Linked DNA regions of Homo sapiens. The protein of the gene in region 2 interacts with the protein of the main gene of each other region in a pairwise test. Each region holds a gene or a part of one and is shown on either strand. Other genes may lie near its edges.

Evidence for each region.
Region 1: the proteins of DUSP12 (region 2) and CCNH interact in binary tests that used the Homo sapiens proteins (3 or more experiments, as listed by UniProt).
Region 3: the proteins of DUSP12 (region 2) and HSPB8 interact in binary tests that used the Homo sapiens proteins (3 or more experiments, as listed by UniProt).
Region 4: the proteins of DUSP12 (region 2) and M6PR interact in binary tests that used the Homo sapiens proteins (3 or more experiments, as listed by UniProt).

The regions. Positions count from the first base shown.
Region 1 is NC_000005.10:87,402,471-87,409,952, forward strand, and holds part of CCNH (cyclin-H), read right to left. Parts: intron 6,894-7,482; coding exon 6,820-6,893; intron 5,717-6,819; coding exon 5,506-5,716; intron 2,538-5,505; coding exon 2,374-2,537; intron 1-2,373. UniProt on the Homo sapiens protein: Regulates CDK7, the catalytic subunit of the CDK-activating kinase (CAK) enzymatic complex. CAK activates the cyclin-associated kinases CDK1, CDK2, CDK4 and CDK6 by threonine phosphorylation.
Region 2 is NC_000001.11:161,745,655-161,753,141, forward strand, and holds the start of DUSP12 (dual specificity protein phosphatase 12), read left to right. Parts: upstream 1-4,131; 5' UTR 4,132-4,147; coding exon 4,148-4,491; intron 4,492-6,000; exon of another isoform or gene 6,001-6,013; coding exon 6,014-6,127; intron 6,128-6,211; coding exon 6,212-6,330; intron 6,331-6,713; coding exon 6,714-6,810; intron 6,811-7,420; coding exon 7,421-7,487. UniProt on the Homo sapiens protein: Dual specificity phosphatase; can dephosphorylate both phosphotyrosine and phosphoserine or phosphothreonine residues. Can dephosphorylate glucokinase (in vitro).
Region 3 is NC_000012.12:119,173,951-119,182,128, forward strand, and holds the start of HSPB8 (heat shock protein beta-8), read left to right. Parts: upstream 1-4,980; 5' UTR 4,981-5,362; coding exon 5,363-5,729; intron 5,730-7,216; exon of another isoform or gene 7,217-8,178. UniProt on the Homo sapiens protein: Involved in the chaperone-assisted selective autophagy (CASA), a crucial process for protein quality control, particularly in mechanical strained cells and tissues such as muscle. Displays temperature-dependent chaperone activity.
Region 4 is NC_000012.12:8,946,305-8,954,078, reverse strand, and holds the start of M6PR (cation-dependent mannose-6-phosphate receptor isoform 1 precursor), read left to right. Parts: upstream 1-4,433; 5' UTR 4,434-4,591; exon of another isoform or gene 4,592-7,024; intron 7,025-7,254; exon of another isoform or gene 7,255-7,363; intron 7,364-7,673; 5' UTR 7,674-7,674; coding exon 7,675-7,774. UniProt on the Homo sapiens protein: Transport of phosphorylated lysosomal enzymes from the Golgi complex and the cell surface to lysosomes.

The DNA.
Region 1 (7,482 bases), on a different chromosome or scaffold from region 2:
TTGATAAAAGGCGAAATGAACAGATTCTCAAAATGTTAAATAGTTTTTCAAACACAAATGCAAAAAACTTATTTTTCTCTTGGGGGTAATAGTTAGAAAAATAGAAAGCAATGCTTTAAGAACTCTTGTTGCTGTCTTTATCCAGATTTATTTAAATTTTATTATAAAGTTTGGTAACTGTTTGATATTACATCATCATCATCTACTGTGGGAATAAATTTTGGATCTGAAAATCAGGAAATCTCCTGACAACTAATCCATTTCTGGCTACCAGTAATTCAAAATAACTAGTTTTTTCCTTTCCCTCTCCTACCTAAAATTCCTCCCATTTTTGTCATCTTCCTTTATTTTTACTCTTCATTTCCTTTTGATTTCTTAAGCATAAGGGTCATAGGTTTGGTGCTAAGAGTTGGCTGACTAGACTCATTATCTCTGTGAAGTTAGCAACTCTTAACCTCAATTTTGAATTTGAACTTATAATATTGTGGTGTTTTAATAAAATCCACAGGCAATAAGAATACCTAAAGTAGCAGATGAAAAATAAAGCTCTAAATCTGCAAGAAAGAGAAGAAAATCCAGAAATAACGGTAATAATCCTATGATTAATAATCTGAGGCATTATCCAGACTATGACAACAGCACAGGGGCTTTCCCTTTTGAAATCAGCAATAAATGTAAAGCTCATTTCCACATATCCCAAAAATTTGCCTGTAAATCAGCTGTAAGTTAAAAACGTTTGGAAAGCATTTCCCTAAAGGAAAAAAAAAAAAAAAAGGCCCAATGTCTAGTCTCTGGGAATGTTACGAAAGCCTATTAAATTTGCAAGGAGCCAAAGGTATGGCAATTTCAATTTTGCCTTCCTGGAATTATAATGAACTAAACTTCTAAGATGAAATAAATTCATTTGGACCTTCACTGAAGAATTTATAGATGCACTATATACAATGCTTCAAGATTAATCAAACTTTTGGTTATTTGAATTGTGGAAAAGAGGACTTTTGTTCCCTTACAGAATGAAGTCTGCAGGCCAGGTATGGTGGTGTGCACCTGTCACCCCAGCACTTTGGGAGGCCTAGGCAGGAGACTACTCGAGTCTAGGAGTGACTGAGATGAGCCTAGGCAGCATAGGGAAACCCCAACTCTACAAAAAAAACAAAAAGATTAGCCAAGGTGTGGCGGTGTGTGCCTGTGGTTCCAGCTACTCAGCAAGCTGAAGTAGGAGGATCGCTTGAGGCTGGGAGGTTGAGGCTGCAATGAGCTTTGACTGTGCCACTGCATTCCAGCCTGGGTGAGAGTGAGATGCTGTCTCAAAAAAAATAACCACCCAACCCCCACAAAATTAATGGAAGTCCACATCTTAACTCCATATACATCAGTAATTTACATGACTATCTTTCCTAACACAGAGATTTATCTTATTCATACTCCTAAAGTGTAGTACAGTGCATAGTAGTACATAGAAGGTATCTAATAAATGTTTGCTTAGTAAATAAGTGGAGATATAAATCACTTTGGGATTAAACGTATACATTTATATACAGTTGGTGAGCTGCGTTTGCAGAGAACAGGCATATCATAAATAAAATATAAACCTACAATCCCTTATCCTAGATGCAGATGTGTTGCGAAATTCTTATTAATAAGTATTCATGTCTTAGAAAAGTTATCTGGTGTATATATTATGAAATGTGAAATACCCAAGTGATGTCTGTAATCAGGAATATTAAGATTTCTGCAAGGGAACACAAATATTCCTATTAAGTGAAATAAAAACTAAATACAATCTGCTCTATTTGCTGCCACCTTATCAATGGATTCTGAAATTATGGATAAGGGATTATAATCATGTAAAATAGTTTTAATTAACTTTAGGAAGTTTTATCATCTTTCTTCCTCAGCTATTTCTAGGAATGAAATCAAGCAGAACCTCAAAGGTCATAAATTGAGAAACTTAATATAGAAACTAAAAATGTCTAATTGGCTGCTAGCTTGTGCTTCAGTTAGTTAACAATATTTAACTTCCGCGTGTCATACATGCTCTACAGAAGGGGAATAAAGATAAAACAAGGCAGACATTTGCTGCACTCAAGTTGCTCACCAGTTCACAGGAACTTCTAAATTTGTCATATACTGATAGCTATATCAGTCTTTCAAGGATCACCTGGTTTACTTCTACTTTAATCCTAAATGTATCCTCTTAGTTTAACAGTATTTTTCATGATGTTTAAAGATTTCCTCAAAAGGCAATTTCATTTCTTCTTCTCACCAACCATCCCAGCCACAAAGAATATTAAAGATTACAGTCAGAAATGATTCTATGAATAAATAAACCCAGTGACTGAATTTGACCTAAGTTAAAAAACTAATTAATACCTTTCCATAGTAATTCCAGCCCTGGAGGCACTAGATAAAATGGCAGTCAGGGCAATTTGGGAAGGTGTGTATAAAAGGTAAGCATCCGTCAATGCAATTCTATTAAGAAAGTCATCAGCTGTTTTCCTCAAAATCTCTGGATTCTCCAATATGGGATAGCGGGTCTACAAAGAAAGTTTGCAAATGTTACCATTTCTGAGGGTTTAAATGGAGTATAACAACAGTTTAAAAATTACACAACTCCTATTAAGAAATATATGCTATAACATATCTAAAGTTCCTAGCACAGTAATTGACACTGTCCTCAATTTACATTAATCCCTTCTCTTGGTCCTTTTCCACCTGAGTAGGAAGGGGAGGGAAGGGAAGCTCTTAGAGATTCCATTGAGTCTAAAGTAGGGCCAAGAAATACATATTCCCAGGTAAATGCTTCTCTCAGGCAACCCAGGTGATTCAAATGTAAGGCCACATGTAGGAATACACCTTATTTTTATATGAAATTCCTTCTATTTAAAATTTGCTTTCAGGAAGAAGTAAATAAAAATGAATCTCGATTTGATTAGAACACACTAGACTTCGAATTCCCACAGAAAAAGTTTTAGAGTATGCCCAAGAGATGTGGAAGACCTCCTATTTCCTGACAGTTCTTCATACCCTATAAAATAAACTATAAATCCTAAGTCCTCAGATATCCATATGCAACACCTAAAGCACTAAGAAAGCTTTTCTACACTCTGAAACAAAATATTCAGAGTCAATTATGCAAAAATGCCTCACCTGTGATATGACAAATTCAGACCCACTACTCTGACCACAATGCCTCCCTTTCTAATATATTTACTCATTTACTTCACAGCTGTTCTCCCTCCTCTGAACCTTTGCTCACTTATCCCTCTACTTGCTCCCACTCACCAGTGTCCTCTGGTCCTCATTTCTCTCCTGAATTCCCTGCCCCAATATGCTGCCAACAAATTTCTGGCAAAACCAGAAACTGAACAGTGGTTGAATCCAACAAACTTTCGCTTTGCAACTATACCAAGATTTCTGAGGGCTGCCAGAGAAAACCATACAAGCAGAAGTCTGGTAATGTTACTATAAACTCATGTTCATTGACCTCAGCAAGGCTCTTAAACACTGCCAAGCAACCATAGTATTTCCACAGACAATTGACTCTCCTATTTTTCAGTGACTGCATAAATATTTTCCATCTGTCTTAATGTCTTTGATAATTCTCAGAAACTCCATCACTCTCAGAAAACTATCTCTTACCAAAGAAAGGCGCTATTTCCTGTCAACACCAAATCCTGAGGCATAACAGTATCCTAACCCATGATTTCCCCTTTTCCACTGTTAAGAGAAAGAGCTATTATTCCCTCTAAGGCCAGTTCTTATACCTTGCTTCCAAATCCCATGCCAACCCCCTTCCATCTTACTCCAAAGAGACTATTTTGTATTTCATCTTGCTCTCACTACTAGCTCTTTGCCTCAGTATTTAAATGTGCATCAGTCTCTTCCATAAAACAAAACACAACAACAAAAAAACTCTCACCCAGTCAGAAACCTGGGGGTTCTTCCTCTGTCTTCATCTCTATATGCAATCAATCCTCATGTTCTATTGATTCTACCTAACTACAGGCTAAGCATCACAAATCCAAAAAATTCAAAATCCGAAATGCTCCAAAATCTGAAAGTTTCTGAGCACTGACATGACACTCAGGAAATTCTCATTGGAGCATTTCAGATTTTGGATTTGGGATGCTCAACCAGTAAGCACAATGCAAATATTGCAAAATCAAAAAAAAAAAAAGTGTAATCCCAAGTACTTTTAGTCCCAAATTTTTTAGATAAGGGATACTCATCCTGTATCTCTGAAGCCCAGGAAGCTCTTTCTGTATCCACAACCTTCATACGAGTGAAGCCCAGCACTATCTTTTGCTTGGACTCCTTTAACGGTACCCTGTTATTGACTTAATCTATTCTAATCCATTCTCCACGTTATGCCTGACACATACAGATGCGCGATAAATACCTGATCCATAAGGTTGCCAACATGATCTTTTAAAGCTGCAAATCTAATCATGCCACTCTCTAAATTTAAACCTTTCACTAGCTTCTCTTTGCTGTATTCAAAATCTGTAACATTGTCTCCACAGTCTAGACTCTGCCTTCCACTCTGGCAGCAGCTGTCTGTGATCTCTTCCCCCTGCATTGCTAGGCTCTGTTCAGGCTCTTCAGCACGGAATGGTTTCTTGAATTTGAGCTTTTTACCAGGGAAGTCTCTGATTGGAATGTTCTTCTCTCTCCTATTCCTACTCTGAATTTTATTTTAAATGATACGTTCTCAGAATGTTTTCCTTACCCCTTAATCTGTTATCTCCCTCTAAAATATATTTTCCCCTCTGTATCATTGAGCACACTGGATATATGATTGTCTAAAACCTTTAGATTGTAAGGTTCACAAAAGTTGAGACTGTTCCTGTCCTATTTCTGGTTACATCCTCAAGCACAAAGTTTGGCACATAGAAGGTACCCAAATTGAGCCACTGATCTAACATGAATGAACCAATTCCTGATTTGATTCGACTCAGACTATCCAACTTCTCTTTTAGAGCCAAACAAAACAACTTAAAAAAGTTGCTTTTGTCAATGTTTGTTTACGTATATTATTGATGCCTACATAGTGACTTAAGTTCACAAACCTCTAAAAATATAAGTCACTTAGCAATCTTCTAGTTTAAGAATTTTTTATGGTTTAAATCAGGCCCAGATCCATGACAATATAATTCAAAGTTAGAAGAGTTATCTTAAGCCTTTATAGTAAGCACCGTTCTAAACTCTCAATGGTCTTCATTACATCCCTGGATGTAATGAAGATCACTTAAATGAGATTGCAGATCACTTAAATCAGAAACTCTGTAAGTCCCACCCAACAATCTCAGTTAACAATTTCTCCAGATGACTGATGATGCCCACTGAAGTTTGAAAACAACTGCCCTAGATGACCAGGCCAGACCCACAGGTTGTATCCATGCTATAACAACGAGGATGATTATGAGTTTTAAAATTTTGGATTCTTTTGTTAAAGAATAGGAAAGGAGAATGTAGTATTAGTTTATTTTACATCAAGTTTACCTTTAAGTCGATGAGGAAGCCCTCAAATGGTCTGTAAGGATTGTGGACAATAAGGTGGAAATTAAGTTGCTGTATAAGAAGTAGTTCATATTCCAGTATCTGTTCAAGTGCCTTCTCCTGTCCAAGAGGACTCTCCCGGAGGTTTCCAACAAACTGAGGACTAGATACATTGAATTCATCTACTTTGCAGGCCAAAAATGCACAAGTGAGCCTAGAGGAAAAAATAAGGAGGCAGGAGGCAGGGGGTGGGTGGGGTGGAAGAACATGCATATACTTTGAGAAGTATCTAAATAATTTATTTCTAAAAGTATATTCTATAATTGCCTAATATTCAAAAGCGACTGCTAGACATTGCAAGAATTGTTTTTTAAAAGACACTTCCTGTTCACACTTCATTAGGAGACGTAAGACAACTATAAAATTAGGTCAAACCAATATTGCCATGGCATTCAAACATCACTGACTCAATGACAGTGTTATGCAGTACAACCTAAATATCTGGAAAAACAAATTAACTGAGGAATAAGAGTACTTTGTATAATGTAGATGGAAGAGTTAAAAATAAAGCAGTACCCACATATGTACCATGTAAGTATGGGAAGAAAAGTAGGTTAAAGGAACATTGTGGAAGGCCATCGGCAGAAGTCTCTAAGGGCATCTGAATAAGGGACTATTATTTAAGGGACAAACTTGTGAAATTCACCTGGCCACTTCATGCTGTTCAGTATGAGAAAACAGTAAGAAAGCTACTGTAAAAAACAGTTGGCAGTGAGATCAAGGGCCTAATCTTGACTGGTGGAAATGGGAATCAAAAAAGAGAAAACAGGTACAATGTCATTGAGAGCAAACTCTTTGATGAGTTTCATACTAATTTCATTTTTAATGATAGACACAGCGCTCAGCAGAGAGCAGCAACAACAGACCTTTGTTCAACTGAAATGAGTATGAAGCTATAGGATCCGTAAACTGACTGGATGTGGGAGGGGCCACTATAAATGATTCTCAGTCTGAACAACTGGAAGAACAAAGGTGTCTAATAGGAAGAGATGTTAGAGAAGTAGCTAATTTGAGAAAAACAAAATTTGAATCTGGACAAGCTGAAGTTCACATACCATCAGAATTACTGAAGTACAGGTAAACAGAGATCTCAAGTTCTGAATAAAAAAAAAAAAATAGAATTCAAGTCTAAATTACCCTGTATTAGGAAGTCAGTTCTCTCTCTCTCTCTCTCACAATTCTCTCCTCCCAAAAAATACTCAAAAGATTATAAAGGTCTTCTTAAATGAAAACAATATATTAGACAGACATACTCACATTATTATCCTGGGGTGATATTCCATTACTGAGTTATTAAGATAAAAACGTTTGAAATACATACAAGCCGTACCCTAAGGGTTAAAAAAAATATATCATCAGGATCTAGTCACAAATGTTAAATGTTAAATTTTGTGAAACAGAACTTATTTATGGAAAGGTTTCTTTGTAGAGATTACCCAGAAAAATACTAATACTCATTAATTCTTCTTTAATCAAAACAAATTGTGATGAATTACTACAGAAATGCCATAGCCAAAAGATTCTTTCCCATCCTTTGCTTGTCTATCCCCAGCCTACTCTGGCTAATCCTTCCTATGGTCACTGGATTTAAAAATACGTGTGTGTGTGTGTGTGTGTGTGTGTGTGTGTGTATTAGAAATCAGACTATCAAAAATGTTCTGAATTAGATAAATTCAGGAAGAAAAATACAAACGTTCACAGATTAACCAATCTTATAAAAATACTGACAAAAAAACATGGGCAAGGCAATAAGCCTTCTCTCTAAAGCCACTCCATATTTGTGATATAACCATGTATCCATTCCATGATTTGTGATCACTGCTGCCAACTGAATGGCAGAAGCAGCACTACCATTTATTGAATGTATACCATGTGCCAGACTCTGTGCTAAACACGAAACTATCATCATGTTTTAATCCT
Region 2 (7,487 bases):
AATTAGCTATTTACTTACTTTCACTCCAGCATTTCACCAAGTTCCTTGAGGGCAAAGACTGTCATACATCTTTATATCCTCAGCATCTACAGTCGTGCCTTATTTTACTTAGCATAATGTCCTCAAAGTTTTTATTGTTGTTGAGATGGAGTCTTGCTCTGTCACCCAGGCTGGAGTGCAGTGATGCGATCTCGGCACGCTGCAACCTCCACCTCCGGGGTTCAAGGGATTCTCCTACCTCAGCCTCCTGAGTAGCTGGATTACAGGCATGCACCACCATGCCCAGCTAAGGTTTTGTTTTCATTTTTGTTTTTTAGGATGGAGTCTCGCTCTGTTGCCCACGCTGGAGTGCAGTGGCATGAGTTCAAGGGGGTTCAAGTGATTCTCCCGCCTCACCCTCCCAAGTAGCTGGGATTACAGGCGCCTGCCACCATGCCTGGCTAATTTTTGTATTTTTAGTAGAGATGGGGTTTCACCATGTTGGCCAGGCTGGTCTTGAACTCCGGACCTCAGGTAATCTGCCTGCCTTGGCCTCCCAAAGTGCTGGGATTACAGGTGTGAGCCACTGGGCCCCGCCTTTTTTTTTTTTTTTTTTTGTATTTTTAGTAGAGACAGGTTTTCGCCATGTTGGCACGGCTGGTCTCAAACTCCTGACCTCAGGTCATCTGCCAGCCTCAGCCCCACAAAGTGCTGGGATTACAGGCATGAGCCACCGTGCCCGACCTCAAAGATAATCTATGTTGTAGCATGTGACAGAATTTCCCTCTTTTTATATGGCTGAATAATAGTTCATCATATGCATATACCATCTTTCTTTCTTTCTTTCTCTTTTTCTTTCTTTCTTTCTTTTCTTTTTCTCTTTCTTTCTCTCTCTCTTTCCTTCCTTCCTTCCTTCCGTCTTCCTTCCATCCTTCCTTCCTTCCTTCCTTCCTTCTCTCTCTCTCTCTCTTTCTTTCTTTCTTTCCTTTTTGGAGACAGAGTCTCGCTCCATCCCTTAGGCTGGAGTGCAGTGGCATGATCTTGGCTCACTGCAACCTCCGTCTCCTGGGTTCAAGCGAGTCTCCTGCCTCAGCCTCCCGAGTACCTAGGATTACAGGCACCCACCACCATGCCCAGCTGATTTTTGTATTTTTAGTAGAGATAGGGTTTTGCCATGTTGGCCAAGCTGGTCTTGAATTCCTGGCCTCAGGTGATCCACCTGCCTCGGCCTCCCAAAGTGCTAGGATTACAGACGTGAGCCACCGCGCCCGGCCCATACCACATTTTCTTTATCCATTAATCCATGATGGACATTTGGGTTACTTCTACCTTTTTGCTATTGTGAATAATGTTGCCATAAATATGGGTGTGCAAATATCTTTGAGATCCCACTTTCAATTCTTTTGGCTATATAACCTAGAAGTGAGATTGCTGGATCATGTGGTAATTCTATTTTTAATCGTTTGAGGAAACTCCGTACTGTTTTCCCTGGTGGGTGCACCATTTTACATTCCCTTCAGCAATGCATAAGCGTTCCAATTTTTCCACATCCTTGCTAACACTTATTTTCTGTGCTTGAAAAAAATACTAGCCATCCTAATGGGTGTAAGATGATATTATTATTGTAGTTTTGATTTGCATTTCTCTAATGATTAGCAATTTGAGCATCTTTTCCTATGCTTTTTGGCCTCTTGTATATCTTCTTTGGAGGAATGTCTATTCAGGTCGTTTGCCCAGTTTTTTGAAAATTGGGTTACTTGTTTTTCTGTTGTCGAGTTGTAGGAGTTTTTTATATGTTCTGCATATTAACGTATCAGATATATGCTTTGCAATTATTTTTTCCCATTCCATACAAATTCCTTTTCTCTCTATTGACTGTTTTGCTTGATATGCAGACACTTTAAAATTTGATATAGTCCCATTTGTCTATTTTCGCTTTTGTTGCCTGTGCTTTTGGTATTTTATCCAAAAAATTGAGGGAGAAGAAAAGGAAAAATCAGTTAGGTAGACAGCTAAGGCTAGCCCTTGGAGAAGCAGTCTGCCTGAAAAATCACAGCTACAAACAAAATAGAGCAGCTTAGGCAAAACTCAGGCTGCACCTGCACAGATAAGCAGGTAGGGTCCAGCACAGACGCTTTTCATTCTTCGTGTAATTGGCGAGCTCCCAGGAAAAACTTTCCTCCCCTTTTCAGGTATATACACAGTGGACTCCGTGGGAACTTGCACAGGAAGGAGGGGGGCTTACCTAAAACAAACCTACAGTGATACAAACAAGAGAACCCACGCTTTGTGCTTGCCTAGAGACATACCCACATCGGCAGAAGATAAGGGAAGTTGCACAGACAGATTTATTCATAAGAGAAGTTACTCAAACAACTATAGAGATGAGAGGAGTTTCTTATAATAGGTTTTGAATTCAGCTGTAAAAATGGCACCCCACTTGGGCTCCCCTCTCTGCTGTGGAGAGCTTTCTTCTTTTGCTTATTAAACTTTTGCTTCAACCTCACTCTTTGTGCCCATGCTCCTTAGTTTTCTCGGTCGTTAGACAAGTTCGGATAACACCTTAGACAATGAGACCATTAACCCTTACCTGTTTCAACATTTTTATCAAATCCAAGGCCATGAAGCTTTCCCCCTATGTTTTCTACTAAGAATGTTATATTTTTAGGTCTTTAATCTATTTGGAGTTATTTTTTGTGTATGGTCCAAGGTAAAGGTCCATCTTCATTCTTTTGCATGTGGATATCTAGTTTTTCCCAACACTGTTGAGGAGATTGTCCTTTTTCCATTGTGTGGTCTTGGCACTCTTTTTGAAGATTATTCTAACATATATGCAGTGTTGCAGGTGATTAGCAGCTTTCTGGGCTGGTGACATGGGTGGTAGGAAGAATTTACCAACACAGTTGTAGGTAAAGAAAGGCAGGTTTATTAGATAAAGTATGAAAATACATTGCAAGGGTGCAACAGGCAGGTCAGCAAGAGAGAAGCTGACTGCTAGGAAACAAAGGCTTGCTGGGGATTTTGTAGAATGGTGCTTATGTTGTGGGTGGAAGAGGGCTTTGTGCAGTACTAATAATGCCAGGGTTGCAGTGAACTAACTTCCATTTTTCTATCAGCTGAGGGTCTGGTGATGGCTGGGCACAGGCAGATTGTGAGTTATTTGCACAGCAGGGCTATGTGTCCTGGACCACGAAGAAAGGCAGACTTATGGCTTGTCTGCTTTCTCCTTTTGCTTCCCTTCGTCCAGCCAGCCTGACTCCTTTTCCCTAATTAGGACTCCACACGCAAGGGTTTGTTCTGTTCCAGAATAGAGACACGTCGATGTATCTATCTTTATACCAGTACTATAGCTGCTACTTCTTGACCAATTACAGCTTTAGTATCTCTCTCACCTGTCCTCCCTATACAAAAGATATATAAAATATACTCACTGTACTGAGTATCTTCCTGCAGCATTCAGTCTGGAGCAAAGCCTGCTTCCTTCAACCCTTTCCAAAATCCCCAAATAAAAGCCCAAAATCTGTAGAGGATCTTCCTAACATCCTCGTGCTGAGATGCCCTGAAATTCTCCATAACTCATGACTGAGTAATAAAACCAACTTGCTTAATTAAAGTTGGTTTCTTGTAGTCCTGGCCGGAGGACATTGACTTACAAAAATATAGGATTAGTATCTTCAAAATAAATAGACAGTAAACATCAACAAGGATTCACACCCCAATAATGAAATTGGGCAGAAAAAGGAAAAATAATCATGAAATGCACAGTAAAGATGGCTCCATAATATTGAAAAAAATTTTACTTCAAATGCATAAAATGATGCTTCTGATTCAGCTGGTGCGACATTTATTTCACATTTGAGTTCAGCTGCTCCTGATGTCTCTTTCCTGAAAATTTCAATACTAAGAGCTCGAGAAACCCTGTATTTGGGGAAGCTTATCCTTCACCATCAACTTTGGGGGTAGGGGTCAGAGGGAACAAGGGTGGAAAGGCCGCGCTGAATGGGGCCGAAGCTCCGCCCCTCAGCGATAAGTCCAGATTCCTGCGGCCGACGTGGTCCTCCGAGGGAGCAGCAGAGCCGCCGAGGCTGGCGAGTCCCAGGGGAAGGATGTTCTAGCCGGAGTCTACTCGATGGTAGGGCAGGAAGCCGCCTTGTCTCTGGGCGCGGCCATGTTGGAGGCTCCGGGCCCGAGTGATGGCTGCGAGCTCAGCAACCCCAGCGCCAGCAGAGTCAGCTGTGCCGGGCAGATGCTGGAAGTGCAGCCAGGATTGTATTTCGGTGGGGCCGCGGCCGTCGCGGAGCCAGATCACCTGAGGGAAGCGGGCATCACGGCCGTGCTAACAGTGGACTCGGAGGAGCCCAGCTTCAAGGCGGGGCCTGGGGTCGAGGATCTATGGCGCCTCTTCGTGCCAGCGCTGGACAAACCCGAGACGGACCTACTCAGCCATCTGGACCGGTGCGTGGCCTTCATCGGTCAGGCCCGCGCTGAGGGCCGTGCGGTGTTGGTGCACTGGTGAGTGGCCGGGTCAGTGGGTGACGTGCCCCGCCAAGCTTCCAGCCGGCCCCCGTCGCCCCTTACCTTCCGAGGCCGTCGGGAGGACAAGAGCGCGGTCATGCCGCGTGAACCTCCTCCCGCTGCCTCCCGCAGGAGGCGTGTTTCCAAGAGAGGAGGAGGGTTGAGGCGGGCCCCTGGTGTGTGCAGGCTTTCATTCATTCATGCTTTAGTTGGTTCTTCCTGCAGCAGCAGAGGGCGGGGGAGGTGTCATCTGATAAATGACAAATTACCTACACCCTAAGGAGTTTACAGCTCTGTTGGAGAAGCTAGACACCCACCCCGATTATTGTAATGCAGATTAGGTTGCTTGGTGTCTTGTAAACGGGATTTACAAAGATTTAGGGTTAAATGTTTTTGTTTGGGATGGGTGGCGGGTGGTTGATGAAGAGATGAATTGGTTTGGATCTAAAGGATCCCTGGGCTTTGCCTAGGGAGGAGATGGTTGCAGCAAAGACAAAAAGAAAATGGGAATCCCGCAGGGCGCGGTGGCTCACGCCTGTAATCCCAGCACTTTGGGAGGCAGGAGGATCACAAGGTGAGGAGTTCGAGATCAGGCTGGCTAATATGGTGAAACCAAAAATACAAAAATTAGCCGGGCGTGGTGGCTCTCGCCTGTAGTCCCAGCTACTCGGGAGGCTGAGGCAGGAGAATCACTTGAACCTGGGAGGCGGAGGTTGCAGTGAGCCGAGGTCATGCCACAGCACTCCAGCCTGGGCAACAGAGCGAGACTCCATCCCTCCCCCCAAAAAAAGAAAATGGGAATCCCTAAGCAGTTCTTGGTTGGATTGGAGTATAATAATCGTTTAAATTTATTGAGCACATAAAAGAAGATAGTGATGAAATCAAAAGAAGTCTGGGACCAGATTTTGAGGTCCCTGAATGCTAAGATGAAAGGAGATTGGATTTGTTTTTGTTTTGTTTTATTTATTTTTATTTTGATATAGGGTCTTGCTCTGTCACCCAGGCTACAGTGTAGTAGCGTAATTACGGCTCACTGCAGTCTCAACCTCCCAGGCTCAAGTGAACCTCCTGCCTCGGCCTCCAGAGTAGCTGGGACTACAGACCCCACCACATCCGGCTAATTTTTTGTAGAGGTGGGGTCTCACTTTGTTGCCCAGGCTGGTCTCCAACTCTTGGACTCAACCAATCCTCTCACCTCGCCTCCCAAAGTGCTGGGATTTCAGGCGTAGGTAAGCCACTGTGTCTAGCCAGGAGTTTGGATTTGTTCTGAGCCATTATAAAAATTTTAAAAATTACTGTTATTATTTTTGAATAGGTAATAGATTCACGTGGTTCAGAATTCAAAAGGAAAAAGGAATAATTATTTTGTACCTTGATAATATTTCAGAGGCAATGGGCTTATTTGAGAAGCAAAAATGAAGTGGGCCTAAACTTTACTATTAATAGGGGGCTGGGCTTTGTGTGTTTTTTTTTTTAATTGTTGCTATTTGCTGTTTTATTTTAAAGGTCTCTTTTTCAGTCATGCAGGAGTCAGTCGAAGTGTGGCCATAATAACTGCTTTTCTCATGAAGACTGACCAACTTCCCTTTGAAAAAGCCTATGAAAAGCTCCAGATTCTCAAACCAGAGGCTAAGTGGGTTCTTTTTTTATAGTAATAATTATGCTTTTGTGATATAATTTTAAGAAAATGAAACTTTATATTTCTTTATCATTACAGGATGAATGAGGGGTTTGAGTGGCAACTGAAATTATACCAGGCAATGGGATACGAAGTGGATACCTCTAGTGCAATTTATAAGCAATATCGTTTACAAAAGGTTACAGAGAAGTATCCAGGTAAGTAATAATTGCTAGTGTGTAATGGGCTTTCTAGATGACATTTACTTTAGCATTGTATGCTTTACCTTACTTCCAGCAATCCCTGAGAAACTATTGTTTCTTTTTGAAACTGATTTAGCCAGAAATAACCTATTCAAAATCACATGGTTTATAAATGGCAGGGTCAGGATTTGAATTCAGGCAGCCCGTGCCCAGAACCTAAGCACTTAAATCACTGTCCTCTCCTACCTTAGCCTGATTTCTCAACACTGGAATTTGATTTTTTTTTTTTTTTAATTTTTGAGGTTAGCACTTGTTGCCTCAATTTGACATTAACTGAATTTATCTGAAAATGCAGAGTTGATTTTGACAAATAAATACATTTTAATTATGTCATATAGAATTGCAGAATTTACCTCAAGAACTCTTTGCTGTTGACCCAACTACCGTTTCACAAGGATTGAAAGATGAGGTTCTCTACAAGTGTAGAAAGTGCAGGTAAACTATTTTATATCCTTTGGATATTTTATCTTGTCTCAGTAGCTGAAAAGTACTTAATGTTTTATTTTCTTAAATTTCTGTAGGAAGATTTTGTTTAATTGAAATTTTTAGTTCAGATCTGTTTTCAGAAAGAATATAAATTCTTAAAAAGAGAAATAATCAGATTGTAAGGGTTATTGAAAATTTAAGTAGTGTAATCAATGTTACATTATTTTGTTCTCTAAGCAATATTGCACATTTTGCTGGGCGCAGTGGCTCACGCCTGTAACCCCAGCACTTTGGGAGGCCGAGGCAGGCAGATCACCTGAGATTGGGAATTTGAGACCAGCCTGGCCAACATGGTGAAACCCCGTCTCTATTAAAAATACAAAAATTAGTTGGGCATGGTGGCTGGTGCCTGTAATCCCAGCTACTCAGGAGGCTGAGGCAGGAGAATTGGTTGAACCCAGGAGGCGGAGGTTGCAGTGAGCCATGATCACGCCACTGCACTCTAGCATGGGCGACAGAGTGAGACTCTGTCTCAAAAAAAAAAGAAATACCGCACATTTCATCCATGTTTTCATCCTTTTGGAAGTCATTAATGCTTTTGTTTGTTTGGGGGTTGCAGGCGATCATTATTTCGAAGTTCTAGTATTCTGGATCACCGTGAAGGAAGTGGACCTATAGCCTTTGCC
Region 3 (8,178 bases), on a different chromosome or scaffold from region 2:
GGAAAGAATTTTGGAGAAAATAATAGAAGAAAGCCAGAGCTCCAATAAGTAAGTGTTACTTTCCCAGGATTGTGAGGGCATAGGCTCATTTAGGGAGGGACCCAGTGCAGGCTGTTTGTTTTATTTTGTTTATTTATTCATTCTTGCTGGGGTGTGTGGCAGAGAAAAGAGGCCTGGGCTTAAAGTTCAGACAGACCTGGGTTCAGAATCCATAAGCTGGTGGCCTCAGGCAGGTCACCTCATGTCTTTTGCCTCAGTTTCCTCATCTGTAAAAAGGGAATAATGATAGTATAAAACCTCTAGGGGGCTGTGATGAAAATTAAAAAGAGCACGCTTGGGAAACCTTGGTGCCCGGCACCTTCTATGGACTGCAGAAATTAGTTAATATGTTGATGTTGTTACTGCATGTAGAGTCTACCCAGTGGGAGTTGGCAATTCAGACCCAGGGTTGCTGATACGACATCATCTACTCATCCAAGATATGCTGGGCTTCTACAGTGCAGCAGGCTCCCTCTAGGCGCTGGGGATGCTACTGTGAACAGGACTCCCAAGGGTCCTGCTTTCATGGAGCCGAGTATGCTGGGAATTCCATTAGTGTCATTGTAGGGGGGGTCTGAGAAACAAAAGAAATAAAAAGGCATGAGCATGCTTACTTCCTATTTTCTGGAGGATGTGCTGGGATCCAGAGCCACCCAAAAGAACTAACTCTGAGATGGGTCTTCAGACCCTGGGGAGGGGCTGGGGGCTGGGAATCCCCTAGGGGAGGGTGGGAACTTTTGTTTCTTACTACATTGAAAAGAAAAGGCACAGAATCTGGCAGCTATGTCTTTGTCCTACTTGGTCCCAGCACTACCTGTGTGGCTTCAGACTACTCTGTCCCCACCAGCTGGTCCCCAGTTTCAGGCATGCAGGGTGATCTCACCTACCTCCTGGGCTGTTTTGAGAATTAATGGTGGTACGCCCCGTACGAAAGCTCTATGAGGATGGCAGCCAAGAGAAACGTGGCTCTGGTTCCCAGGATCTAACATCCTTCCCCTGTACCACAGTCCCCTCTAAGGTCTCTTCTTCCCTGGCGGAACCAGCTTGGAGGCCCCTTCTTCTCCCGGGCCTCCCCTGAGCCTGGCGTCATATTTTCACCTGATTGGTGACAGCCCATGGGGTTTAGTGACCACTTTCCTCATGTGTTAGCTAACTCCTCACCAGGTGGCCGAGTTAGCAGGAGCAGCTGCCTCCCTCCTCAGCTTCCTGAAATGAAGGGCTGACCAGATCCAGAAATGCAATGAGAGCCCAAGGGGGAACAGGACACCAGGCAGTGTGGAAGGCTCGCTGGGCAAGGCTGGGCCAATATTGTCCCATAGTGGTTATTACCGTGCACTGCCAAGTGCGCCCTGGCTTGGATTCCAATCCTTGGTCAGCTGTGTGGTCCAGGGCAGGTGGCTTGACCTCTCTGAACCACAAGGATTCCATGAGGTCATGGATAAAACTGTTGACCACAGGGCCGGGTACATGGTTAGTGTTCAATAAATGTGAGCCATGACTTTGACTTCAGAGGCAGTGTAGCAGATGAGACAAGAACCAAACTGCCCGGGGTTCAAATCCCAGCTCTGCCACTGACATAGGCATGTCAGGTAATCTCTCTGTGCCTCAGTTTCCTCATCTCTAAAATGAGTTTAATAAAACATCCTTCCTGACGGGCATGGTGGCTCATGCCTGTAATCCCAGCACTTTGGGAGGACGAGGTGGGTGGATCTCCTGAGGTCAGGAGTTCGAGACCAGCCTGACAAACATGGTGAAAACCTGTCTCTACTAAAAATACAAAAATTAGCCAGGGGTGGTGGCAGGTGCCTGCAATCCCAGCTGCTCTGGAGGCTGAGGCATGAGAATCACTTGAACCCGGGAAGCAGAGGTTGCAGTGAGCCAAGATTATGCCGTTGCACTCCAGCCTGGGCAACAAGAGTGAAACTCCATCTCAAAATAAATAAATAAATTAAAAACATCCTTCCTAATAGGATTGTGGGGAGAAGTAAAAGAGTTTAGGAACATACATTTAAAGTGCTCAGAACAGAAGCTGGCACGGGGCAAGTGCCCCGTAAATGCCAGTGATTGTTATTTCTATTTTCTACCTTTGCATCCTCCCTTTCGTCCCCCTCATCCTTGAAATGAGAAGGTGGATTAGGTCATCACAGCTCGGTTCCCTGCTCCTTCGCCAGGCTTCCCCTCCTTCCAGGTCCCCTGGTCCCAACTGAGCCTCATTTGAGGCAGAGGGGTCCTCTGGAGGTTTGGGGATGGCCTGGGAAGGGAAAAGGAGGGGAGTTTCTTCCTGAACATACCCACCAGCAGACTCGGCGATAAACAAACACAGACCTATCGGCGCATAAACACAGACTCACTCCTGCACCCACTCAAATCCGCACACAAACTCATTCCACTCTGTCCCACCCACTCAGAAACCTCACCCCAGCCCCTGCCCAGGTCCCAGGCAGGGCCAGGTTTCTCCGGTGCGTCATGCGGCTTGCAGTGATTCTCCCCACAACTGGTTTCCAACTCAGCCAGCCCCGCCCAGCTGTAATTACAGAGAGAGCTGAAGCTTCTGTGCCCAGCCATGACGTCAGCCCGAAGCTTCCAGCCTGATGAGCTCACCCTACATCCAGTGGGGGCCCAGTCACTCGGGACATGTCATGCCGTGGGGTCCCCACCATTCTTTCTCAGCTGGGGAGGAGGGCAGGGGTCTCTGTCTGTCGGTTAAGCACAGATCCGGGATTCAGAACAACCCAGGTTCCCACCCAGGCTCTGCCACTCCATATCTGTGTGCAAGGGTCAAACCTCTGTGCCTCTGTTTTTTCACCTGCAAAATGGGGGTGATGATAATAGTGACGTTTAACTATCGAGTCAGGATTTAACTCAGTAATGTCTGAAATGTACTAACTCTAAAAGCAGACGCACAGGAGGCAATGGGCGACAGTGATTGTTTTTCTCCGTATTATTATTTTTAGCAAACTGCCTCATGCACTCACTGTTTAATATCAAAACAATTTCTCAACCTATGACTCACTGAATTCCTTAATATCCTCAGTTTACCCTCATCTCGTGAAGAAGGCAGGGCTGAGACCCGAAAGCCCACACAGGGAAAACGACATGCCTAAAATTTTCTGCCTGTTGCGGACAGATCAAAGATTAGAACCCAAGCCGAAGAGGCCTCCAAGCCAAAGGAGGATTTGTAAATTCATTCTTCCAGCTGCATGGGAAGAGCAGGAAAGTCTAGATTTGGGGCTTTGAGTTTCAGACCAGACCTCCTGCCTGAGTGTAACATCTTTCAATAATTATCAGTATTAACAGTCATAATAATAATAGAAGCTACTATTCATGAACACTTCTATGGTAGTTTTCTCATCTGTAAAATGGGATAATACTGGTACTCTTACCTCACAGGATTGCTGGTGAGGGTTAAATGAATTCATATTTATAAAGCCCATAGAGCAGGGCCTGGCATATAGCAAACATTATGTAATTGATAACTCAAAATTGAAAATACAAGGAGAAAGAGAATTACCTCATGTATTCTTCATGGTACATCTGTGAGTTGGCTACTGTTATGTCCGTTTATAAGGAGGAAAACTAACAACCTGGAGGTGCCTGGGAATAATGTTACTGCCTATAAAGATGCTTTGATTGACCAAACATTAATCGGATTTCTGAATCTTCTCCTAAGCCCATCAGTGAGGTTCCTTATAAAAATTCAGTTTTGGGCCAGGCGAGGTGGCTCACGTCTGTAATCCCAGCACTTTGGGAGGTGGAGGCAGGTGGATCATGAGGTCAGGAGTTCAAGACCAGCCTGGCCAAGATGGTGAAATCCAACTCTACTAAAAAATACAAAAATTAGCCGGGCACGATGGCGGGTGCCTATAATCCCAGCTACTCGGGAGTCTGAGGCAGAAGAATCGCTTGAACCTGGAAGGCGGAGGTTGCAGTGAGCGGAGATGGCGCAACTGCGCTCTAGCCTGGGGGACAGAGTGAGACTCTGTCTCAAAAAAAAAAAAGAAAAGAAAGAAAGAAAAATTCAGTTTTGGCATGAACTCTGCTAAGTCTGTTTAGTAGCAACCACCCATCTTCGATTTCTGATCACCCTCGATATCTGATTAGTTTCCTCATCCTCCGCGGTCCCCCAGGTGATGTCTGAGCACCCTGGCCTGTCTTCAGCAAGAATCCTCTTAGGTTAGCTGAGCCCGAATCCCTCTGACTCCTGGACTTCCCTCCTAGTAAATTTCCATTCGCTGACCCCCCACCTGCTTCTTGGCTACAAATTCACACTTACCCATGACCTACTGGGAATCAAGTCTAATCTTTCTCCCTCACTGCAAAATCCCATTGCAGGGGTCCCTACATCTATGGAGAAAGTTTCCCTGCCCAGTAAAGTCTTGCTTGTCATACTTTAACAAGCGTCATATGAATATATATATACACATTAAAAAAATTTTTTTTTTCCTTTACCAATCTCCCCAGAGGGCATTGAGGCTCTAGGAGCTTGGCCATCTTGTAAGTGGGGATTGCAACCCAGGGCCATCCTTCAAATCCACTGGGCTCCTGTCTCTCTCTTCCCTTTCTGCAGGTCCCCAGGGGAAAGGCAGGATACGACACGCTCTAGGGAAGGTATTTCCAGAGGGTGACCTGAGCCCTCAGCCAGGCTCGGGGTTATTAATAGCCAGGCCTTAGTGCCCCGCTCGGGGAGGGCGGCTCCAGCTCCTGGAGCAAGAGGAGGGCGGAGCTGAGCGGAGTGGCCAGGGGAGGAGAGAGTGTCCGGAGAGGCCGGCTGAACTTGGACGCGGCCCCTCCCAGCTCCCCCCACAGCCCAGCTGTTCCCTCCGCGGATTCTCCGGGGCTGGTTCATCACCTCCGAATATTCCTGTGACAGGAGACGCTTGCAAAACCCGCCTCCAGCCTCCAGCAGCAAATAAATAGAAGGCTTGCAGCCCAGAAGGAGCCAGAAGAAGTTTCTAGGCGCGCGTGCCCTGGGTTTATTAAGCTCCTGGCTCCGCTCTAGACCTCAGCGGTTCTGGCTGCCAGCCTGGGCAGCCTGGGAAGCCTGGGAGGACGGTGGCTTGCCGGTCTGTCGTGAGGCAGTGCGGACGGGGACCCTCTGGGATTCTGCTGGATCTGCCCCGGGGGTTACCTTTGGGGGCTGGGACCCCAGTCGAGGGGACACAACCGTCCCTGGCAGTGGTTGGTTCTGCTTCTCCCTGCAGAAAAGCAGCATTTTCGGAAGCTGAAGAATAAGCTAGCCCAGCCACACCACCTTGTTGTGTGACCTTGGGCAGGTGGTTCTGTCTCTCTGAGCCTCTGTTTCTCTCTGAGCTGAGCAGCCACCATGGCTGACGGTCAGATGCCCTTCTCCTGCCACTACCCAAGCCGCCTGCGCCGAGACCCCTTCCGGGACTCTCCCCTCTCCTCTCGCCTGCTGGATGATGGCTTTGGCATGGACCCCTTCCCAGACGACTTGACAGCCTCTTGGCCCGACTGGGCTCTGCCTCGTCTCTCCTCCGCCTGGCCAGGCACCCTAAGGTCGGGCATGGTGCCCCGGGGCCCCACTGCCACCGCCAGGTTTGGGGTGCCTGCCGAGGGCAGGACCCCCCCACCCTTCCCTGGGGAGCCCTGGAAAGTGTGTGTGAATGTGCACAGCTTCAAGCCAGAGGAGTTGATGGTGAAGACCAAAGATGGATACGTGGAGGTGTCTGGTAAGTCAGGGGCAGGAGGGAGAGAGAATGGGGAGGCCGGGATGTAGCCCTCAGCCCTGGGAATAGCCAGAGAAAGTTTCCTGGGAGCTGACGTTGGGACAGTGTGACACAGGTGACCTCAGGGCTCAGGAATGCAGCCTGCAAAGTTATCTTTACGGAAAACTTCTCTCCCGGCTCCCAGCAGAGATCTTAACCTGCCTGACTCAGCTATTGGGGCCTCTGGGTGCTCATCAATCATGGTACAGACAGGAAAATAGAAACCATGTTGGATATTTTGACAGAGGGCATTTAATATAAAGAATAGGTTAAGCAGATATCAAAGAATTAAAAAACAAAGAAGAAACGGGATTTTGTGCACTCCAGCATCATAACAGAGTCTAGAAGTGCACGTTAAGGCTGAACAATGATAGTGTTAATAACCGCAACTGGTTTCCGGTGAAACACCTCTCCTTGTCCCAGACAGGGAAACTGAGGCTTACCAGTAATTGTAGTAACACTAACTGGTAACTCTGAGTGCTAACTATTCGCTCAGCACTTTGCTAACTGCTGTTGCCTATAATATCTCAGCTAATACCACAACCAGAGGAGGTGGGTACTGTTTATCTTCTTTTTTCAGATGAGGAAACTGAGGCACGGAGAGATTAAAGTAACTTGTTCAAGGCCACCAAGGAGTCAGACCCAGGTTGTCTGGGAATTAGGAGGCCAGAAAGAAGAAGTGATGATTTACTGAGCACCTACTAGGTGCCAAGGGTGGGCTGACATTCTTATACTTCTCCAAAATCATCCTCAGTCCACTCCAGGGTAGCAGGGTAGGCCCATCTTGCAGCTGAGGAGGCTGAGGCCTAGGTGGGACTCGTTCACAGTCATGCCATGAGTCAGCAATAGGAGTGGAGTAGGGACTGGGCCTATGCACAGCTTTAGGCCCAGGGCTCTCACTGCCGCATCCCACCCTGGGAGAAATAAACATACTAGGGGGAAAAATGAGAGAAGACAGGAAGCTCAGCCCCTGTGAAGCTGGGCAGTAGAAAAATCTTTCTTTTCCTTCCCTCCTGATTAACACTCCATTAAAAAGAATGTGTTCCCGGCAGAGGCTTGCCTTCCAGAAAATCAGTCAAAGCCATTGCAAACACAGGCTGGGCAGGAACAAGCCCCAGCAGCATTCAGGGGGAGTTTCAAGCCAGTCCTGGTAGAATTATAAACATCAGAGGCTCCAGCGGGTGTGGTGGGCTGGGAGACACGCTGGGGCCACGTGCTGATGACAGGGTCAGCCAGATTTCTGAGTTGGCTGGGGAGCAGGGCATGAGTTCCGAAACTGGCTCCAACTTTAACCAGCAGGATGTGCAAATTACTTCACTTTGTGCTTCTGTTTTGTTTCCTCATCTGGAAATTAGGGTTCAAATGGTTATACCATAAGGATTGTTGTTTTAAGTGAGGTGATGCTGTAAAATGTGTACATACCTGTGAACCCAGAAAATCTGAGACAGATCTCAGTTCATTTAGGAAGTTTATTTTGCCGAGGTTGAGGACACTCCCATGACACAGCCTCAGGAAGTCCTCCTGTCACATGCCCAAGGTGGTCTGGGCACAGCTTAATTTTATACATTTTAGAGAGACATGAGACATCAATCAATATATGTAAGAAGTACATTGGTTCGATCTAGAAATGCAGGACAACTTGAAGCAGGGAGGGGTTTTCCAGGTCACAGGTAGGTGAGAGACAAATGGTCGCATTCTTTTGAGTTTCTGATTAGCCTTTCCAAAGGAGACAAACAGATAATGCATCTATGTCAGTGAGCAGAGGGCTGCCTTTGAATAGAATGGGGGGTAGGTTGGCCCTAAACAGTTCCCAGCTTGACTTTTCCCTTTAGCTTAGTGATTTGGGGGCCCCAAGATTTATTTTCCTTTCACATTCTATGACCTGGAACACAAGGAATTAGTATTATTATTGTCGTCGTTATTGTTATAGTGTCAGGCATCCAGGAAGGCCCCAATAAATAATGAATAATAGATGCTCTTTGAAACCTGGGTTCAGATCCCAGCACTGCTGTTCACTAGCATGGCGGATGTGGACGAGAAAGTCTTCATCCCTCTGAGCCTCATTTCTCCTATTTGCAGAATGGAGACCATAATAATATCTGTCCTGTAAGGGTGTAGGAAAGATTAAACATATGCAGACTATCTATGATAATATATGCGGAGTGTCTATAAAATGGAGCTAATAATAGTGCTTGCCTGGCACTCTGTAAACAGACCGATTATCACCATTCCTTCTGTCCTTGTTTTAATTAGGGTCTTAGATGCTTCTAGCCCAAGTCCAAGGGTCGACTCCACCCTGTGGTCCCTCTAGGAGACCCTCTGTCCAGCCTGGAGGGTTTTTCACCATCCTCTTTTGTAGGTGCTTCATAACAGGTGGGGTCTGGCAGCTCCATGTTGAGATCTCAGCTAAGTA
Region 4 (7,774 bases), on a different chromosome or scaffold from region 2:
CAAAAAATCATATGGACATGTCAAAAGGATAAAGGAGGCACCACTAAAAGGCTCCCACTGGCTGCTCAACAGAGGCCCACACCCTCCCGCAACTTCTCGGCCTCATCAGTGGGTGGACTGCATGTTCCTGTGGTAGGAAACACACCCTCCCCTCAGAGATCTGAATCTCTAATCTTGCAGGTGGGGAAGGGAGCATTTCCTTTAACTTAAGTAACTCCTTTATTAACTCTTCTTCAGCCCTAGAAGTAACAGCTCCTTTTCGTAGCTGCTTCTTCTGTATCATAGAGTCCTCTTTTAGTAACTGATCATCTTTTACTAGAAAATAATTCTTTAAATTTTTCCTGTTAAAATCGCCAATATGATATCTGTTTCTGAATGGACCCTGATTGATATAAAAACGTATCACTTCCCTTGCATTTCTATCCAAAAAAAATGCAAACTTAAATATAATCATGAGGAAATGATAGCCGCAGGAGGCAGACAAATGCCTAGGCAGATCCCCAGTGAAACCCCATCTCCAAGCTGAAGACAGTTTAAAGCCTGAAAGCCAAGCTACAAGTCAAATCCATGGACCGGATTAAAAACCTGTCTTCCCATTTGGCACATTTTTCTTTGATTGATCCCCACCTTTCACCCATTTTATATACACCTACCCTTTCCTAATTGGTTTTCTACACTGTCGTGCCCACCTTTGAGTGGTGTCTTCACTTTAACTGTTTTTGCATACTCACAAACCAATCAGCACACACTTTCCATTCTGAATCCATAAATGCCCAGACCTAGCCACATTGGGTGAGAAACCACCTGACTGCAGGGGTGGGGGACCACCTCCACCTACCACATCCCCTCTCCGCTGAGAGCTGTTCCATCGCTCAATAAAATTCTTCTCCATCCTTCTCATCCTTCAAATTGTCAGCATATCCTCATTCTTCTTGGATGTGGGACAAGAGTTCAGGAACCACCGAATGCAGATACAAACTATAACACAGGCAGCAGGTCAAGTGAGGCCTGGGGGTTTTGCGGGGGGGGGGTGTCACTAGCTATGGACGGGTCCCTGGTTGGCAAAGTGACCGAGAAAAATCCTACATCAGATATATCAAACAAAACCAAAATGAAAGACATTCTACAAAACAAGTGGCCAGTACCTATCAAAATTTCAAAGTCAAGTAAGATCAATGACAACTAATTACAATGTGTGACTCTGGCTTGGCTCCTGTGATTGTTGGGAAATCGGAAGTAACTATACATAGCATCTATTGAAACGTGATAAAATTTTGAATACAGACTATGGATTTGGTAATATTGTATTAATACTGTAGTTCCTGATTTTGATGAGAGGATGTCCTTGTTTCTAGGAAATACACACTGATATATTTAATGGTAATGGAAGTTTACTCTCAACCTGTTCAAAATAAACTAATGTATATGGAGGGGAAAAAGATGAATTTAGGTAAAATGTGTACCAGAGTTCTTTGTATTATCCTTGCATCTTCTCTATAAATGATAAATATATTAAAATTGAAAGTTACCAAAAACTATATTTAGTCCTTGAAATATGGAAAACATGATCATTTTGAAAAGCATCTGAGCCGGGCTCAGTGGCTCACACCTGTAATCCCAGCATTTTGGGAGGCTGAGGCAGGCAGATTATTTGAGTTTAGGAGTTCAAGACAAGCCTGGGCAAAAATGTGAGACCCTGTCTCTACAAAAAATACAAAGATTAGCTGGGCATGGTGGCTTGCGCCTGTGGTCCCAGCTACTTGGGAAGCTGAGGTTCTAGGACTGTTAATTACCTTCCTCTCTTATGATTATACAGAACAGGAGGCATCCTTCCCATTTGATTTCAGACCAACAATCCTAGAACTGCTTTCTAAACAAGGTGAACAATTTACCTTGTGTGAGAGAAGGCAGTGTGGGTGTAGGTTTATTGTGGGGAGTGTGCTTGTTAATAATGAGGCTAAGAAAGGAGGCAGGCCAGAAATGCAAACAAACAAACAAAAAAAAATTCTGCTCATTTCAATTTTTGCCCCAGCAAGAACCTTGAGCTCAGTTCTCAGAGGTGAGAATTCTAACACAGAAAGCACCCAGAAAGGGCACTGAGGTCTGAGAAGCAAGGAAGTGACCCAGGTTGTTTGCCTCTGGTCGGAAAGGGAAACTACCCCTGCTTCCACTCTGACAGCAGACAAGTTAATCAACCTACTCAATTGCATTTTTGGCCCATTCCCCATTTCCAACATGAACAGTTCCTCCCCTCCAGCCCAATGCCACTCTAGGCAGTCACCAAGAGGTAAGATTTCTGAAATCAAAACTTGAATTAACCAACAAAGGAACATCAATTCTAGAACGGATTGTAACAGGGATTTTTGTCTTTTTTCTCTGCTGTATCCCCAAGATCTATATTATATATTCTGTGGTTTTGGCACATAGTAATTGCTCAGTAAAGCTGTGTTGAGTTACTTGATAAAAAATAAGTCAGTAGAAATAACTTAAATGCTCAACATTAATGTCATTGGTTAAGTAGCAATGCATAGAACTAAATATTATGCTATTAAAAAGTTTATTTGTAAAGTCAAGGATATGGAAAAATATTTGATACATACATATCTTTTTGAGATAGGTTCTCACTCTATCACCAAGGCTGGAGGGTAGTGGCAAGACCATAGCTCACTGCAGCCTCCAACTCCCAGGCTCAAGCAATCTTCCAGCCTCAGGCTCCCAAGCAGCTGGGACTACAGGTGTGCACCACCAAGCCCAGCTGATTTTTTTTTTTGAAAGAAGGGGTCTCACTATGTTGCCCAGGCTAGTCTTGAATTCCTGACCTCAAGTGATCCTTCTGCCCCGGAATCCCAAAGTGCTGGGATTACGGGCATGAGCCACAGTGTGGGACTGATACATTTTTGAAAAAAGGAAACAACATATATTCATGAAGGAAATACACACCCTCCTGGTGAGTTTATGTATGATTTTTGTTTTGTTGTTTTCTGTGTTATCTGATCACAAATTACTTTCATTTTCAGGAAGAAAAAAATTTAATTTTTTTTTTTATTGGGGCAACATCCAACCCAGATATGATTACTACCTAGCCTGAACTGAATGTATTACTAATAAACAAAGAAATGCAGAATGGCATACAGTCGGTAAAGCGTAGTGCTTGAGAGCATGGATTATGGAGACTATTTAAATACTGGCTCCATAACTTAATAGCTTGGGACCCACGGTGTTACTTAGCTTCTATCTGCTTTAATTTACTCATCTGTAAACTTGGGATAAGATACTTCCTCATAAGGTTGGTGTGAAGACCAAGTGAATTAACTATCGTTTAAAGCACTTACAAAAGTGCCGGGCACCACCGAGATATGCATCCGTTAGCTTTTATTATTATTAGACTCAAAACACTGTAGTAGTTCTAATGAGAGGGGTAAGAATCAAAAATCCAGGCACCTGCATAGAGCCAGAGAGGCACACATAGAAGCAACGTAAGAGTGGAAGCGGAATGAAAACATGCTAAAGCCAGGTACAAGCCACAAGCGAGGGTCCACAGGAAGAAATTGTTAATTCTGAAGAGAGTGAATGCACGAAGTTACAGGAAAAATAACATCTGAACAGAGTTTAAGAATGAGCAGGACTTCAACAAGTGGCTAGTAAGACATAAGGAACCTACAAAAGATCTTAGCAAAGGCGCAAAGATTACCATCGTATTGCTCGTTTCTTCCTACTTTGCAGAAGTAACCTCTGGCGAACAGAGGTGGTTGCAGAGCATGCTTATCAAGCAAAATACCACGAAGCAGTAAGGAACGACAGAGATAACAGTAACAATAATAATTCACCCCAAGGTACTCAACTGGAAAAAGGAAATACAGAGGAGAGGTGTCGTTAAGAAAGCCAGGACGCACATCACGGCCCCGTCGCTGCACTACTCTCGTCTAGGGGTCAACAGTGGAGTCGAGACTCGAAGCTTCCACGCGGCGGAACAGCGTCCCTCTCAGGCGGCGAACGGGCTAGGGAAGCGCCCGGAGGAGACCTAGCGTGAGAACTACAACTCCCGCGGAGCCCGAGGGCGAGCTGCCTGCGTAACTTCCGCTTCCGCCACCTGCCCCTCTCACCCTCTTCACTCGAACCCTACCCGGGAGCGGTCAGGCGCGTGACCCCGCGTGACCGGGGTGCGCGAGCCGAGAGGCCCTGGAAGCGGGACTCTGGGACCCCATTGAAAGAAAGGCAACCAGAAAAGGCGAAACGACAACCTCGATAGTGATTGGAGCTGATGGAACGAGGGCGGAGCTAAAGTCCCAGAATACTGGCCAATCAGAGTTTAAGATTATCAGGGAGCCCGGGAAGGGGAAAGGGGCGAAATGGTTCTATGGTCACATGCCGCGGGGTCTGGTGGGAGGAGCGGTTGCCCAGCGGCCTCTTGGCGCTTCCTGTTTCCGGTTCCCAGAGTGGGGCACAGCGAGGCGCTAGGGGGAACGCTGGCCTCTGAAACTAGCTCTGGGACCGGGGTCTGCGGCCGGCCCCTAGCTGGCCCCGTCTCCCATCCCCAGAAGGGTATTCACTGGGGATTCTGAGCTTTGGCTACTCCAGTTTCCCACGACACGTGAGTGTGAGGGGCGTGGAGGAGGAGGCGGGCTGGGTTGCGCTCACACTTAAGCGTCTGTGACAGGAGCCGGAATCGCATTCTCCCTTGACCATGGTTCTAGCCAAAGATCTGGCTGAGGAGCCCTAAGGGTAGAATGGAGGCGGAGGCATGAGAGCGGAGAGTCACGGAGTTCCGAAAGGTGTGAGGGAGAAAGGACTTCCAAGACCAGAGAGGGGATTTACGATATTTAGAAAGCAGGGAAAGGAAAATACCCCAAGTATGGAGTCCGTTGGAGGTGTTGGTGGATTTATTTGTAGGAGGAATTTTGGCCTGCATCACGGTGGGAGGTCAAGTGGCATCATTTGGAGAGGGTATGGCTACAAGCGCTTGGAAAGTCGGGACACTAGACAGAGCGAGAATTTCTGGCACCCTGGGAGAGCTTTGAGGGGGATGCGACTGTGGTGTGGATAAGAATGGCTGATGGACGGATTATCTTGTGTTCCTCGTTGTGGGGAGCTTCCGCTCTTGGGACATAGCCGCTACTTGTCTGAGGCTCCTTCTCTCTTGAGTTCTTTCAGCATTAGGCCTTTTAGCCAATTGAGGCTGCTTTTCTAAACATGTAGGCTGCTGGAGAAAAAGGGATAAGGACTGCTACATCAGAAAGGAGCCAGCGGGAAGACAGTAGAAATTCCACTGGTAAATGGCCATGGCTGTCTTAACAGATGGGGAAGTGAGTGCTACAGAGGCCCAGTGGTGTAAGCTGCTTCCCAGTTGCTGGCTTAGTCATTGGCCACCCTAATAAAGGATAATTTTTAGCATTGCCAAATAAAATAGATCTGTCGTTAGAGAATAAGAAAACTGAAAGATTTTTCAAGATCATAAAATCCTGCTCCTTATTTCCAAAGTATATAGACAAACTCTTGTACCTTGAGAATCTAATTGTAGCATATTAAAAGGGGGCTACTGGGCCCTTCCATTTCATTCTCTTCCTGATTGTTGCACCCCTATGTTTATAAGTTTTCCAGCAGTTATCTTTATGCCACGAATCGTCTAAATTGCCCCAGTAACTTCACACACATTTAATATCTGTGTAATGTACAGCAAGTAATTTAACAAGTAATTCTGTAAAGCATCAGTTTTCTCATCTGTGAAGTATGAAAAATTATACCTATTTTCTGGGTTGTGAAGATGAATGAACATAATCTAGGGAAAACATTTAGCGCATATGCCACTGAATTAAAGAGAAGCAGCTTAAATTTAAAGACAAGCCTTAAGCAGGAAAGAAGAATACAGTATAAATTTATTATCCTAACTTTTTGAATAATAAGCAAATGAAAGATAGTTCAACTCAGCTAATGGCTGAGGTGTTTAACCTTTCATCCCTTCCTAATTTTGTGAGATTCCTTGTTCTAATTTAGGAAAAGAAATCAACTGTCAGTTTTTAATTAGGTCCTGAGAGACTGGAAAGGAAAATGGCAGGCTAAGTCAGTCTAGAAGAAGGAGTCTCCTATTTCTTTTTAGTGAGTCAGCTGGTCAAGTTGTGTGTTGAGCAGTGGGTTAACTTAGGGAAGGTGGGAGTTGGAGGTCTGAGTTCTTTATTTCACCTCCTATTCAGTCAACTGTGTGAGGAATCACTTCCCCTTCACTTCTTAGTAGAAAAAAAAAAAAACCCACAGTTTTGGCTGTCTACTCTCATCTCCAAAAAATTGTTATGCACATAGTGGAAATATACATGTAGTTGTTCAACACAGACCATGAGCTCTGGAGCTAGACTCTCTGGCTCACTCCACTAGCTGTGTCTCAGTTTTCTTACTGGTAAAATAGCAACAATAATTGTATTTACTCATAAGGTTGTGAGGATTAATTAGTTAATTAATATATGTTAAGTGCTTTGAACAGCACCTGGCCCAAGGCAGTAGTCTGTTGTTTCCTGCTGTTGTGTGGTTTCAGTGCATTAAATGTGTTATGAGGGCCTTGGACCTCTTGGTTAGCTATGATTATTCTATGGAAACTACCATAATATTACAGTAGAGAATTGATGTTTGGGGTACAGGAAGTCAGGTAGACAATTTCCCGGGATTTTTTGCTTTAGTGGGGTGTGGGAAGTGGAAGGTCAGATGTTAGGTTGTTTAGGGGAATGGGGAAAGTGCATTCACGGCCAAGGTTGGAGCTTCCATTTTCCCATCTTCAAACTCATTAGTACCCATGAAAATTCTGCCTGTTTCAAGTTTTATATTTTAAAAATGAGGTGGAGTAAGTGGACCCGCATGAAAAAGAACTAGAGAACTTTAAAGAATATTCAAACCAAAGTCCAGACTTGCAGCGTTTTTTGTAAGTGAGAAAAGTTTAGAAGAGTTAAATCAGGAAATTGTCCGTGATACTCTTGGAATAAACAAGTAGCAATGGCCTGAGGGATCATTAACAGATACCAGAGTAAAGTGTTTTGCAAGGGTAAGTCAGTCTGTCCTGGGTATGAAGATGGATAAGAGAAAAGAAAATGTTAGGTTTTGGTGGGGTTTTTTTGCCAAAACCACAATGACCTTTGCACCAGTCTAGTAAGTTTGGGAAAGAGAGCTGTCTGTGTGTTTTCATTCCTAGAGCAGTACAAGCAGCAGGTGCATTGAATTTACTCAATTGTAAAGTGGCTTGGTGATCCCCAATTTGTTGTCATTGATTTGTAGTGTAAAAGACAACTGTACTTATGGGAAGTCTAGAAACCCTTGAGATTTGTGACCTGTAGAGGCCAAAGAGGTTTCAGAAGACTACATCAAGCCATCAAACAGTAAAGAGGCAAGGATGGCTCCACCCAAGCTGTCATCATTCTTTTTTAAGTTCTTTCATTTCCCTCTTCCCAACTTTGTAGTTTGTTCTGAAAGACTCACCTATACATTAGACTACAAGTTACATATAAATGAATTTTCTGCTGCAGATGCTCTTGTTACAGAGATATTAAAATGTACTATGTGTTGCATATGCCAGAGAATCTTGTACTTTCTGGATAATTAAAATACCATCGATTTATTACACATTCATACGCTTTATCTCTTTCCTCTCTCTCCTGATCCTACCTGCCCTCCCCAACACACACTCTCTCCCAAAGGATGTTCCCTTTCTACAGCTGCTGGAGGACTGGACTGCTACTACTACTCCTGGCTGTGGCAGTGAGAGAATCCTGGCAGACAGAAGAAAAAACTTGCGACT